Linked DNA regions of Homo sapiens: regions 2 and 3 are each linked to region 1. Evidence: fine-mapped expression QTL. A gene starts in region 1. Each other region holds a variant in brackets. All regions are shown on one strand. Distances are from middle to middle. Region 1 holds the start of KLHL42 (kelch like family member 42). Region 2 overlaps MRPS35 (mitochondrial ribosomal protein S35). Region 3 overlaps MRPS35 (mitochondrial ribosomal protein S35).

Evidence for each region. PIP is the estimated chance that this variant, and not a neighbour inherited with it, causes the effect.
Region 2: its variant is the best candidate, but not a certain one, in a credible set for the expression of KLHL42 in whole blood (TOPMed, PIP 0.57).
Region 3: its variant is the best candidate, but not a certain one, in a credible set for the expression of KLHL42 in aorta (GTEx, PIP 0.72).

What each region holds. Positions count from the first base shown.
Region 1 is chr12:27,778,301-27,782,545 of GRCh38, reverse strand. It overlaps KLHL42 (kelch like family member 42), which reads right to left and starts at 2,313. Exons shown (of 3, transcript NM_020782.2): 1 at 1,344-2,313. The coding sequence starts at 2,215. MANSC4 (MANSC domain containing 4) reads left to right here and starts at 2,310. Exons shown (of 4, transcript NM_001146221.5): 1 at 2,310-2,336. RefSeq lists an enhancer at 1,797-2,296 and silencers at 2,162-2,471, 2,492-2,711.
Region 2 is chr12:27,738,658-27,742,902 of GRCh38, reverse strand. All of the region lies in intron 7 of MRPS35 (mitochondrial ribosomal protein S35), which reads right to left. Among named protein-coding and RNA genes, the nearest start is that of MRPS35, 30 kb to the right of the region's middle. The variant C/T (reference allele first, on the strand shown) is at 1,810.
Region 3 is chr12:27,726,681-27,730,925 of GRCh38, reverse strand. The region is part of intron 5 of MRPS35 (mitochondrial ribosomal protein S35); the gene reads right to left. Among named protein-coding and RNA genes, the nearest start is that of MRPS35, 18 kb to the right of the region's middle. The variant G/C (reference allele first, on the strand shown) is at 2,654.

The sequences.
Region 1 (4,245 bases):
ACAGTGCATAGAATTTGTTTTAAAATAACACTTCTGATACCAAATTTTAAATATGGTATCATCTCAATGGTGTAAATAATGCATTAAAAATGGGCTGGCAGGAAATATGCCAACCTGGTTACTGCCTCTAGGAAGAGCGGGTAGGAATAATCATCTTTTTGCTTCTTCATTCTTTTCCATTTTCCAGTTTTCTGTAACTATGTATTATCAGGGGAAAAAGCATACTTTTCAAAATGAATTTCATATTATAGGAGAAATAAAGCCAGTTATTTCCCCCAAATAATCCCTGGCCGAGGAGGACCCTCGAGTCAAATAAACAGATATATAAAGGATTCTCTGTTACTGTTAAGACTTTCTTTGCCCAGCTGTGAGCTCCCCAACTCCTTGCTCCACACTTCAGGACCAGGACCCTGTGAGGATTGAGATGGAAACACGTGGATGGGAAGAAAGGGTATTTTCATCCTTTCTTGAGTTACATTGATTCTTTTCCCTGCTTCTGAATGACGCTGAGGCCTCCTAGGCGCTACCATCTTTATTTCCTACCATCTCTTCCTGTATATGCTCTTTGCTCTTGTTTTGATATTCCTTCCCTGGTTCCTTTCCCTTCTCCCCTCTCATCCCACTCCTCAAGCTCCTCCTCTTCCTTTCTTCAAGTCACCCTTGTTGGAGGCAGGAGAGATTTGCAGGATGGGAGGGGGAGAAGGTTGCGTAAATGAAAATATTCCAATTCTGTAGTTGAACACTTCCAGGCTCAAGCTGTGGGTCATGACGATGGCTGTCCAGGGAAGGAAGCAAAAGAGAGGATAAAAAATAAGAAAAGCAACCCCTATTGCAAACGTTAATACATTTCCAGTGATTATCTCTTGATCATGATGGGTATCACAGTGTGGAAGACTCTGTTGTCACAGTCACTGACATCAGAAAAAAATCCCCCAAAGTCAGTGTTACAGGTTACTGTCCAGTGTATCATTATCATCAGGATCAAATCCTAAAAACTAAGACAAATTTTTTAAAAATTAAGGGGCAATTTTCTTTTAAAGTATTCTTGTAGGAAACCACAACATCTTTTTTCACAAGAACAGAGGCAAAGAAAGCAGTTTCACCTAAAGGCACAATACCTGCCAAAAAACCACTCCACTTCTTGACCTCACTGGGGACGTCCTCTTCGCAATTTCTTAGTTCATTGGGAATTTTGCCAGCGCCAAGGCCAACAACATTCCTGAAGATGTCATTTCCACCACAGCACACCCTCCCCTATTTACTGGCTCAGTAAACACTGGGGTAATGAACTAATGAACAAGTGAATGAATGAGAAGGCAGCAGCACTCTGCCGGGGTGCTTACCTCTTCTGGTTCATGGAGGCCACCTGGAGCCACTCGTTGGTGCTGGGGTTGTAGGAATGCGCAGCGGAGATCTCCTGGCTAGTGATCCTGTACCCGCCCACTATGAAGAGGTAGTTGTCCAGGATGGCAGACCCATAGCCCCTGACATTGACCAGGTCGGGAGGAAGGTTGTTGGCCAGCGGGAACCAACGCTCAGTCATCTCCTCGTACCTGAGCATGGACGGGGGCTCCCCCTGGTAGGGGTGAGGGGCCAGGGGTCCCCCCAGGAAGTCCCCGAGGGCCACGAGGACAGGAGTCCCAGTCATCCGGGCCTCCCTCAGCCTCTGCTTCAGGCTGACATCCCCTGGAGCTTGGGGAGGAGACCCCAGGAGGTGGAACTGGGGCTTGCACAGCACCTCGTGGAAGTGGACGACCATGAAGCGCAGGCAGGCCTCCTGCAGGTCGGGCAGCCCGTACACCTGCGCCAGGCGGTACATCTCCAGGCAGTTATTGAGCCGCACCTGGGACAGCAGCAGCTGCAGCAGGGACGTGACCTGCAGGAAGGAGGCCGCCTCCACCAGCTCGGACAGCAGGCTCACCTCATCCATCTCCTCGTCCTCGTCCACCCCGCCGCCCTTTTCCCCGCGCGGGCCCAGGAGCCAGCCTTCGCGGGCCCCGCCGGCGTTGATGAAGTCCAGCACCAGCCGCAGGCCCGGCGCGCTGAGGCCGCGCAGCTGCTGCACCTCCGGGCCGCCGGCCTCCTGGCTCAGGGCCTCGCGCATGCCGGAGCGGTAGAGGGCGCGGAAGTAGTCGCTCTGCTCGATGAGCTTCCTCTTGCTCACCGGGTAGCAGCGGTCCTCCAGGCGGATCTGCACCATCTCCTCGGCCGACATGGCTGGGGGCCCCGGGGCGGCAGCGCTCACCGCCAGATCTGCGCGCCGGCCTCCCAGCCCCTACGCGCGCGCCGGTTCCGGGCGGGGCGCCGAGGGATGGCGGCCCGGGAGGAGCGGCGAGGTGAGGGCCGCCCGCGCTCGCCCGGCCTCTCCGGCGGCCCCTCCTCCCGGGGCCCGCTCCCGCGAGGCGGCGGCCCTGCCCTTCTCCTTTCCCTCAGCGCCAAAAAAGGGCCGGCGGAGCGCGGCGGGCGTCCTCGCGCGGGCTCTCCCGGGCGGCGCCAGGCGGGAAGGGAATTCCAGCTCCCAGCCAGCAGCCTCCTCCCCCGCCGCCCTTCTCACTTCCGCCCGCGGGACCCCAGCCGCCGGCCTGACCTGCCGGCTGGATCCGGCTCTCGGGGAGGCCCGGGAAGCTGCGGGCCCGGGCGCCTCGGCTGCGGACGCGCAGCTGCGGGAGGCGGAGGGCGCGCGTCCCCGCAGCCTCTCCGCCCGCCCGGGGCGCGCCGGCTCCGCCGCTTGTTGGGGGCTGCAGTGATGCTCCGGGGTACCCCAGGGAGAAGAAATTCGTTTTCTCTCCCACGCTGCTTTACACGGGCTAAAGAAAAAGAAATGAGCGTGGGAGGAAAGGGAAGGATGGAGTCTCTGGTCCAGGGAGACAAAAAGGCATCAAATATGGGGTCGTCCTTCTGGCCCAGTCCGGCATCGAGTGTCAGTGGGCTGAGGCACGCAGGCGATCTATGGACAGTTGGTGGCAATGTTGGTGGCACGTAGAGCTGATTCTCTGGTAGCGTGGTCGCGTAGGAGCCATCTTACAGGAGGTCCAGGCAGATGGCAGCAGGTTCTCAGAGGAATCGGGTTGGGAGGCAGGGGAGCTTGCATTTGCCACTGGGGCCCCTTATTCTCCCTAAGTTATTAAAAGAAAGATGAAAGCGCAGCCCGACTAAATAAAGTTACATCACGTGGCTTCTGGTTTTAAACCATGTTTTCTATGAGCCATTGCTTTTCTACTTCAGTCCAGTCCATTACGGAATGTTATCCTGGCGCAAAAGATCTGACAAAATTGGCTCATAAATGTCTGCAAGAAGTAGCTTTTCTTGTCACCCCCTTTCTCCACCTACCCTGCCCCCATCATCTGAGGACTATTAAGAGAGACCACACGTGCGGTTTGGCTGAGCGCGGTGGCTCACGCCTGTAATCCCATGACTTTGGGAAGCCCAGGTGGGCAGATCACGAGGTCAGGAGTTCGAGAGCACCATGGCCAACATGGTGAAACCCCGTCTCTACTAAAAATACAAAAATTAGCCGGGCGTGGTGGCACGCGCCTGTGATCCCAGCTACTCGGGAGGCTGAGGCAGGAGAATTGCTGGAACCCGGGAGGCGGAGGTTGCAGTGAGCCGAGATCGCGCCACTGCACTCCAGCCTGGGCGACAGAGCGAGACGCCGTCTCGGAAAAGAGAGACCACTTGTTTCCTATGTTCTCTCACTGAACATTGCAATTAGAAGGCCCACCCCAAATAATAATAGGAAGGACTTTTTGTCTTGCTAATGAATTCATCCCAGGAAGGGGGTGGGGGGAGAAATATATTGTTTGGATTATCTTTGGGTAGGAGAAGGGAGAAGGATTGGGAGGAAGCAGAGGGTGTGTTCACTCTTATCTTACAAAACAAAAACAGAAAACCTTGAAAACTTACCCCAAACCAAGATTTGAGAACCACCTATGATAAACAGTCCTTAACTTGGAGAGAATATGTGTTTGGTTTTTTTTTTTATTATTACAAGCTTCAGCTTTCTTCTTGAATGACAGATTGTTAAATAATATCTTCTTCATAAGTACATTTCCCCTATTTAAAGAAGATACATCCTACCATGCTAACATTTTACCTTAGGAAGGAGAAAGGGTTAAAAACCAGAGAACTAAAAGAAAGTCAAAGGTGAAACATGAGATCCTTTCAACATAGTTTGGTTACATTTGTGGTTCTTACTACGAAATTTATCTGCTTCACAGAGAGGTGTTGTTGTCATCTTTTACTTTG
Region 2 (4,245 bases), 40 kb after region 1:
CCTGGGTGACAAAGCAAAACTCAGTCTTCAAAGAGAAAATAAACTTTTAAAATTGTCTAGTAAAACACACACACACAAGCCCCCAAAATAAAATAAAATGAAACAAAAATAGTGAGAAGTACTTTTTCAAATAACTAGTAAAATACTGTATCAGCTCAATGTTGCCCTCTGGTTACAAATCTACATTTTGCAAATAAGCACTACGACGAGCTTCACAGCCTGTCTCTGACTTACTGCTAGCCTCACCTCCTTTCTTGGCCCTGTTAGTTCTATACCCTGGCTACACCAAACTTCTGCCTGCTCTTTAAACCCACAAGGCCTAGAAAGTTCTTCACCCACTCTGTACCACATACTCCTGTTCATCTTCTAAAACCCATCATCATTCCTGTGACGTTTTCAGGGGGAGTTAACCCTTGTCTGTGGCTCTCACAGCACTGTGTTCCTACTTCCATTAAGCTCAACAGATTATATTATAACCAACGGTTTCCCTCCAGAAATCAAGGTACCTAAGGCAGGGGGTCATTCATTTTGATAGTGGCACCTAGCAACATATCTTGTACACAAGAACTAAATAGTTGTTGAATGCAAAAGAGAACAAACATAGCAAACATTGCTCAAGCATTCTCCAGTGGAAATGCAGGTGTGTAGGCATACACAATCAAAATGAACTCATAAATCCGACAGATTAAATGGTGATTATGGCTCTGCAAAAGTATTCATTTTTATCAGAAATATCTGCAATAATGTCCCCTTTAAAACGAACTCTTAGTAAGTATAAAATTCTCCAACTTAGAAATTTTTAATTTTTATTGGGGGTCTTGCTATTTGCCCAAGCTGGACTCGAATTCCTGGGCTCAACAGATCCTCCTGCCCCAGCCTCCAGAGAAACTGGGACTACAGGAATGCAACACTGCTTGGCTAAATTAGAAATTTTTGTTACATGACTTTTCAGAACCATTTTATTACAAAGCTAGACATAGTTCTGACAATAAAACTATCATGAAATCCAAATAAGACAGCCGAAATTTTAAAATGTAAAAAAGCAACCATTAGTAATTCAATATCAAAATCACCCATGAATCTCTGAAATTTGATTTCAGATCTCTAACTTTTCTAAAGCAACTGTTTTTTTTCTCTTCCCCAGTATTTGTGCTCATCTTTTGTGCAAGTCACTTTGCAAACTGACTCATTATTTCTCAACCTAATCATTTACGGAAGGTTTCAATTATTAAAAAATCACTAAAAAGTTAAAATTAAGGAAGTTGTGTTATCATCAATTATGTCAAATTGTGAGTAGGATACACATCCTAAAGAGTATAGATCTGACTTTACTTGTACAAACTCTGCCAAATTAAATATAAGCTGTATATATTAATAGAAATTGGGAAACCATGAATTTAAAATTCTAAGAAAAAAATCTTTCCTCATTTTATTATTGTTAATATCAACATTATTTATAGATGCTTATGGAGAGCCCACTATTTGCCAGACACTTTACACAAATTCTCCCTGATCCATCCAAAAATCCTTAGGAAAAAACTGAACCTCAGAGGTTAAATAGTCGAGGCTATTACACAGGTACTAAGTAATGGCCCTGGAATTCAAATCCATGTCTGTCTGGCTCCAAAGGTTAAAAATTCATTCCAATGCTAACAATACGTAATACTAAAATAGGACACCAAATCTCTACAACTCTCCTTGCTTATTTTTTAATTATTATTATTATTTTTTTTTTGAGACAGAGTCTCACTCTGTCGCCCAGACTGGAGTGCAGTGGTGCGATCTTGGCTCACTGCAACCTCCGACTCC[C/T]GGGTTCAAGCGATTCTTGTGCCTCAGTCTCCCGAGTAGCTGGGACTACAGGCACCCACCACCATGCCTGGCTAATTTTTTGTATTTTTAGTAGAGACGGGGTTTCATCATGTTGCCCAGGGTGGTATCGAACTCCTGAGCTCGGGCAATCCGCCTGCCTTTGCCTCCCAAAGTGCTCCCAGCCTCCTTGCTTCTTTAAACTGCTGAAGGATAAATGAATGGTCCAGTGAATATGTGTCTCTTATCACCTTCCCAGCACTGAAATAATTATTCTTTGAGGCAGTATTAAGCCTTTATGCCTGAAGCTTAGGCTTTGCGATGTCTATGCTTACTGAAATCTACTTTGACACTTCTATAGTTAAACTGTTTTGAATAGTATACAACAGTAATATCCTTCTACTGGAGTCTAGGTGATCACTTCTCCAGAGGGATTTCAGTACTACAAGCTACATAAAATTAGCAGCTACTTTCCCCTCAGTGCTACTTAGAGGTAACCTCTAGGGGAAGGTTAAAAAGCCAAGGGAAGGCAGGGCACAGTGGCTCATGCCTATAATCCAACACTTTGGGAGGCCAAGGTGAATGGATTGCCTGAGCCCAGGAGTTCAAGACCAACCTGGACAACACAGTGAAATCCCATCTCTACAAAAAAAATGCAAAAATTAGCTGGGCATGGTGCCATGCGCCTGTAGTCCCAGCTATTCAGGAGGCTGAGGTGGGAGGGTCACTTGAACGCAGGAGGCCAAGGCTGCAGTGAGCCATGATCATACCACTGCACTCCAGCCTGGACAACAAAGCAAGACCCTGACTCGAAGAAAAAAAAAAAAAAGCCAAAGGAAGCATATATTTGGGTATTAAATGCTCAGAAGCTAGCCTATAAAAAAAATCAAGCAATGGATTAAAAAGAGGCTCTCTATTTGATTAAATAACGGTGATAACATCAATTTCAAGTATGAATTCCATGTTGGTGAGGGAAAATGAATTTCAATTCAATAAAAATTCTTTTCTAGCAGCTCCGCAAAATTTCACGGCTCATCTGTATTCAAAATCTTCTTCACTGATGGTACTTGTTTAGAAAGCACCAAGAAACAACGGTAATATAGAATTCTTCAAGTATACTTGTTTGGACAGTTGTATGTGGCTACTTATCCTGGCATCAAAGTAATCAGCACTAAAGATCAAAGGCTTCTGTGTGAATCCAGAATGCAACCCTGTTTGGATTCTAAGTCACGGAACCACAGAAAGAATCCCATAAATCAACTTCCACTGAATTTATGCCTATCATTTCCTTCTGGGCAAATTCATTCTAATAGATACTGGCAAAATAAGAAAGTCAAAACGGGTTGTATTTATTGTTAGTTATTAAATCTTTAAGCAGCAACAGCCATAAAGCTGTAGCTAATTCAGCCATGTTGCTGGTTCAAAAGAAAACTTAATTATCTTAAGCCAACAGCATTTCTAAAATCAATTGTGTAGGAAAGAGATTAACTGCTATTCTGATGTTGCTCTTAAAGCCAGAACTAGAAAATCCAGATAAATTATAATAATGGAAATAATTGTAAAGAAGAGAAGAGCTTACCAGCTACTTTTTGTCTTTTACTCATCTCACAACCAAGTTTTTTTCTTTCACTTTCCATTCATCCTCTTGTGTGAAAACTCTTTTATCATAATATGAAGGAAAAGCTGTGAGCAGTTTAGAGAACAGCTGCATGTATTCACAGAATCACAGTAACTTGGGCTGAAAGGAGGTTCCAAAGGCCATGGAATTTAACTACCTATTCAAGGAGTATATTTTTTTTGCCTATCTTCACTAAGTGGCCGATGGATGGAATGTTTTCTACCTACTGAAGTAGCTCATTGCATCTTATGATGGCTCTCTCACAAAGTTCCCCTTGGGAGGGCTGGACATGGTGGCTCACAACTGTAATCCCAGCACTTCGGGAGGCCGAGGCGGGTGGATCACCTGAGGTTAGGAGTTCGAGACCAGCCTGGCCAACATGGCAAAACCTTGTCTCTACTAAATATACAAAAATTAGCCAGGCGGTAGTGGTGCATGCCTGTAATCCTGGCTACTCGGGAAGAATAACTTGAGCCTGGGAGGCGGAGGTTGCAGTGAGCCAAGATCGCTCCACTGCACTCCAGCCTGGGCAACAGAGTGAGACTTTAAAAAAAAAAAAAAAAAAGTTCTCAGTAAACCAAAGTCTGTCTCTGTCTTACTATTGTCGCTACCTTGTTGTATCTCTAAGAGTCATTAAAAACAAATGTAAGCCCTCTTCCATATGAAAACTTTTATTTTTTCTATTTTTCTTTACTTCTTTTTCCTTTTTTCACTGTTTCTGTAGACACTGACATATGAAGTCCTTTCTAAAGAACATGACCCCCTTCTCCAGCTAACTTTATTCCTTTGAATGTTCCTAGTATGAAATGCTATTGAGTCCC
Region 3 (4,245 bases), 52 kb after region 1:
CCTCCTGATCCTTAAGTGTGGGCTCTGCATAGTAACTTTCTTCTAAAGAGTAGAGTATGGGTAAGAGGGGAGGAAGTATAATTTTATGGTGAAGAAAATGGACAAGTACTACCTCAGCCAGGTGATGAAGATTAGCATCATCACTGACAAATCATGGCCGGCACAGTGGCTCACTGCCTGTAATCCCAGCACTTTAGGAGGCTGAGGTGAGAGTATCACTTGAGCCCAGGAGTTCCAGACCAGCCCTGGCAACATGGCAAAACCCCCTGGCAACATGGCAAAACCTCATCTCTACAAAAAATACGAAAACTAGCTAGCCGTGGTGGCTTGCGCTTGTAGTCCCAGCTACTGGGGAAACAAAGGTGGGAGGATCACCAGAGCCTGGGAAGGTCGAGGCTGCAGTGAGCCGTGCTTGTGCCACTGCACTCCAGCGTAAGTGACAGAATGAGACACTATCTCAAAAAAACAAACAAAACAAATCATCTTAATAGCCTATACTCTCGATATGATGTGATGAGAATGGCACTTTATTTCTGGGGTTTTTCTCCCCAAACACACAACAAGTTGAAAGACATTCTACCAAATATACAACTAGTACTTCTCAAAACTGTTAAGGTCATCAAAAACAAGTCAAGTCTGAGAAACATCACACCCAAGATAAACCTAAGAAATTATGATGACTAAATGTGATTTGTAAACTGGATGGGATTCTGGAACAGAAAAAGGGTATTAGAAAAAAACTAAGATAATCTGAACAAAGTAGGGACTTTAATAACAATAAATTCAATATTGATTCAGTATCAATATTAATTCACTAGTTGTGACAAACGTACCATAGTATATTTTAAGATGTTTACAACAGGGGAACCTGGGTCTGAAATTCTCTACTATTCTTGGAACCTTTCTGTAAACTAAAAACTATTCTAAAATAAAAAGTTTAATTTTAAAAAGTATATCAGGTAACTGCTCCATGACTGCTGTGTGAAAAAGATATGCCATGTGTACCAAGATTTCTTTGACAAAGGAAACAAACAGTGACTTCAAATACTAAATTAGAAGTTCCTAGGGCAGACACTTGGAAGTGCAATGGCACGTGGCGTGGTCCAGGTGAGTAACAGTAGGGATCTCATGTTTCTCCAAAGCAATATGGCATCCGGACAAATGACCCTAAGTAAAATTCTAGCACAGCAAATCAGCAGTAGAATAAAAGAATGATACACTATGAACTGACCAGGGTTCAGAAATGCATCAGTATATTGAAAACCTATTGATGTAATTTATGACTTCAATAATTCAAAGGAGGTAATTTCATAAATGCTAGTAATCTAAGAATAGGATACACCATTAACATAATAAACACTATTATCTCACTGAAATCCTACCTCATACTTGAGGTTAAACACTAGAGGCACAGACAATTAAAGTATGCAACAGCATAAGGAACTACAGAAATATGACTTCAGAAATTTTATCTAATGCAAAAGACAAAAAGAAAAAACAAGCTATGGTTACTTGAAAAGGGGAATTAAAACTACCATTATTTATCTATTATGTCTTGAGAAATTTCCGAAAGAATCAGCTGAGAAGTCCTAGCATCCAGATCATGGTCTGTAAACACCACTGTCCACTGGCAGGTATTAGGGCTCCTTGAAAAATGGCTGATTCCAGGTCCGGGATAAGAAATTTATAAAAATGAGCCTGAACCATCTTGTGTCAAAATACAAGGAAACTTTCAAATGCTAAAGGATTGTAACAAAAGGACACAGGAACCAACTTAAAAGAGTTCCCACTGGCCAAAGGTAAGATAGATATACTTCGAGGACCAAAAAGAATAATGATTTTACTTGATATCCACCCACAGATTACTTGTTCAAGGGAAAAGCAAAACAAAAATCTTCACAAAGGAATGATTAGGTTGTCAGCTTCTTAGCCAAGTGCTCAATTTCAGCATACTGAGAATGAGGCCACCAGACTTTACGTGCCCCTGATGCAATATAAAATACATAGCAATATCTATAAAGTATTCTTGCCAAACATATTTAACTGGAATCTTATCAGCCCTTTAAATCTAACTTCCAGGTTATGTGAAATACAGGAGATAAAGAAATAAGGTAAATGACATCCAGATGCAATGGGGCAAATTCAGAAGATAGGAAATGTTACAAGATAAATACCCTGTCTCTTTAACAAGTCAAATTCATCAGGAAGAAGGGAGGGAGGTGGGGTTGTTTGCCATTCCAGATAACATAAGATACATCATTACCAAATACAATGGTCTTTGGCGGGATTCTGGTTTCAATAACAGAGCTTAAAAAATACCATTTTGTAAGGCAATAGGGGAAATATAATGTGGAGTAGATATTTTAGATGATATTTGGGAATTACTGACAATTTTGTTACATGTGGTAATAGTATTGGAATTAAATAGGAAACATCTCCTTAATTCTTAGAGATAACACACTGAAGTATTTTAGTGTGAAACATTAGGTGTCAGAAATGTTAAGGTACTTAGATGTGTATGTATGTGTATGAAGCAAATTTGTCAAAATATTAATTACTAAATCAAGATGCCATGTGTATGGGTATTTATTATATTAGCCTCTTTCTACTTGTCCATACATTTGAAAATTTTCATAATAAAAAATTTAAAAAA[G/C]AGAATTTGGTAAAGTAGCCAAATGAAAAGTTAAAAGATAACTATATGACTTTTGACAAGGATGTCAAGACCATTCAATGGGAAAGAATAGTCTTTTCAAAAATGGTATTGGATCAACATGCAAACGGAATGCAAAAGAATGAAGCTGGACCCCAGCTTCACACCATATCCAGTTAGCCCTTTGTCTCCACGGGCTCCACATTTGTGGATTCAACTAACCGTGGATTGGAACGTGGATTGAAAATATTCAGAAAAAATAACAATATAACAATTTTTAAACTGCATATTCTTAAAATACAGTATAACAACTATTTACGTTGTATTAGGCATTATAAGTAATCTAGAAATGACAAAGTATATAGGAGGATGTACTAGGTTATATTCAATATTCAAATACTATGCCATTTTATATCAGGGACTTAGGCATCCACAGATCTATGAATTTACAAGCGTTCCTGGAACCAATCCCAAACAGATACTGAGGAACAACTGTATGATAATTAACAAACAATAGGTCATAGATCTAAATGTAAGAGCTAAAACTATAAAACTTTTAGGAGGAAACACAAGAGTGAATCTTTTATGACCTTGAATAAGACAATGATTTCTTACATATGACACCAAAAGCACAAGAAACAAAAGGAAAAATACTGTCATACGCCACTTAACAATATTTTTTGACAAAGACATGGCTAGGTGATTTTGTCATGTACAAACATCATTATGTATTTACACAATCCTAGGTGGTACAGCCTACTACACACCTAGACTACATGGTATAGTCAATTGCTCCTTGGCTACAAACCTGTGTAGCATGTTACTGTTAAATACTGTAACAACTGTAACAAAATTGTACTTGTGTATTTAAACATATCTAAACATAGAAAAAGTGCAGTGAAAATACAGTATTATAATCTCTTGGGACCACTGTTGTGTATGTGTTTATCACTGACCACAACATCATTATGCAGCACATGACTTACATAAATTGGACTTCATCAAAATTAAAACTTCTGTGCTTAAAAGGCTCACGCCTCTAATCCCAGCATTTTGGGAGGCTGAGGCAGGCAGATCACAAGGTCAGGAGATCGAGACCATCCTGGCTAACACGGTGAAAACCCCATCTCTACTAAAAATACAAAAAATTAGCCAGGCGTGGTGGCGGGTGCCTGTAGTTCTAGCTACTCGGGAGGCTGAGGCAGGAGAATGCTGTGAACCCAGGAGGCGGAGCTTGCAGTGAGCTGAGATCGAGCCACTGCACTCCAGCCTGGGTGACAGAGTGAGACTCCGTCTCAAAAAAAAAAAAAAAAAAGGACATCATCAAGAAAGTAAGAGGACAACCCAAAGAATGGAAGAAAATGTTTACAAATCATATATCTGAGAAGGGACTGGGACTGGTGTCCAGAATATATAAAATACACTTATAACTCAACAATCGAAAGATAAACAACCCAATTAAAAAACAGGCAAAGGATATGAACAGACATTTCTCCAAACATATACAAATAGTCAACAAGCACATGAAAAGATGGTTATTAGGGAGACACAAATCAAAACTACAATGATACTTTCATACCTATCAGAATGGCTAA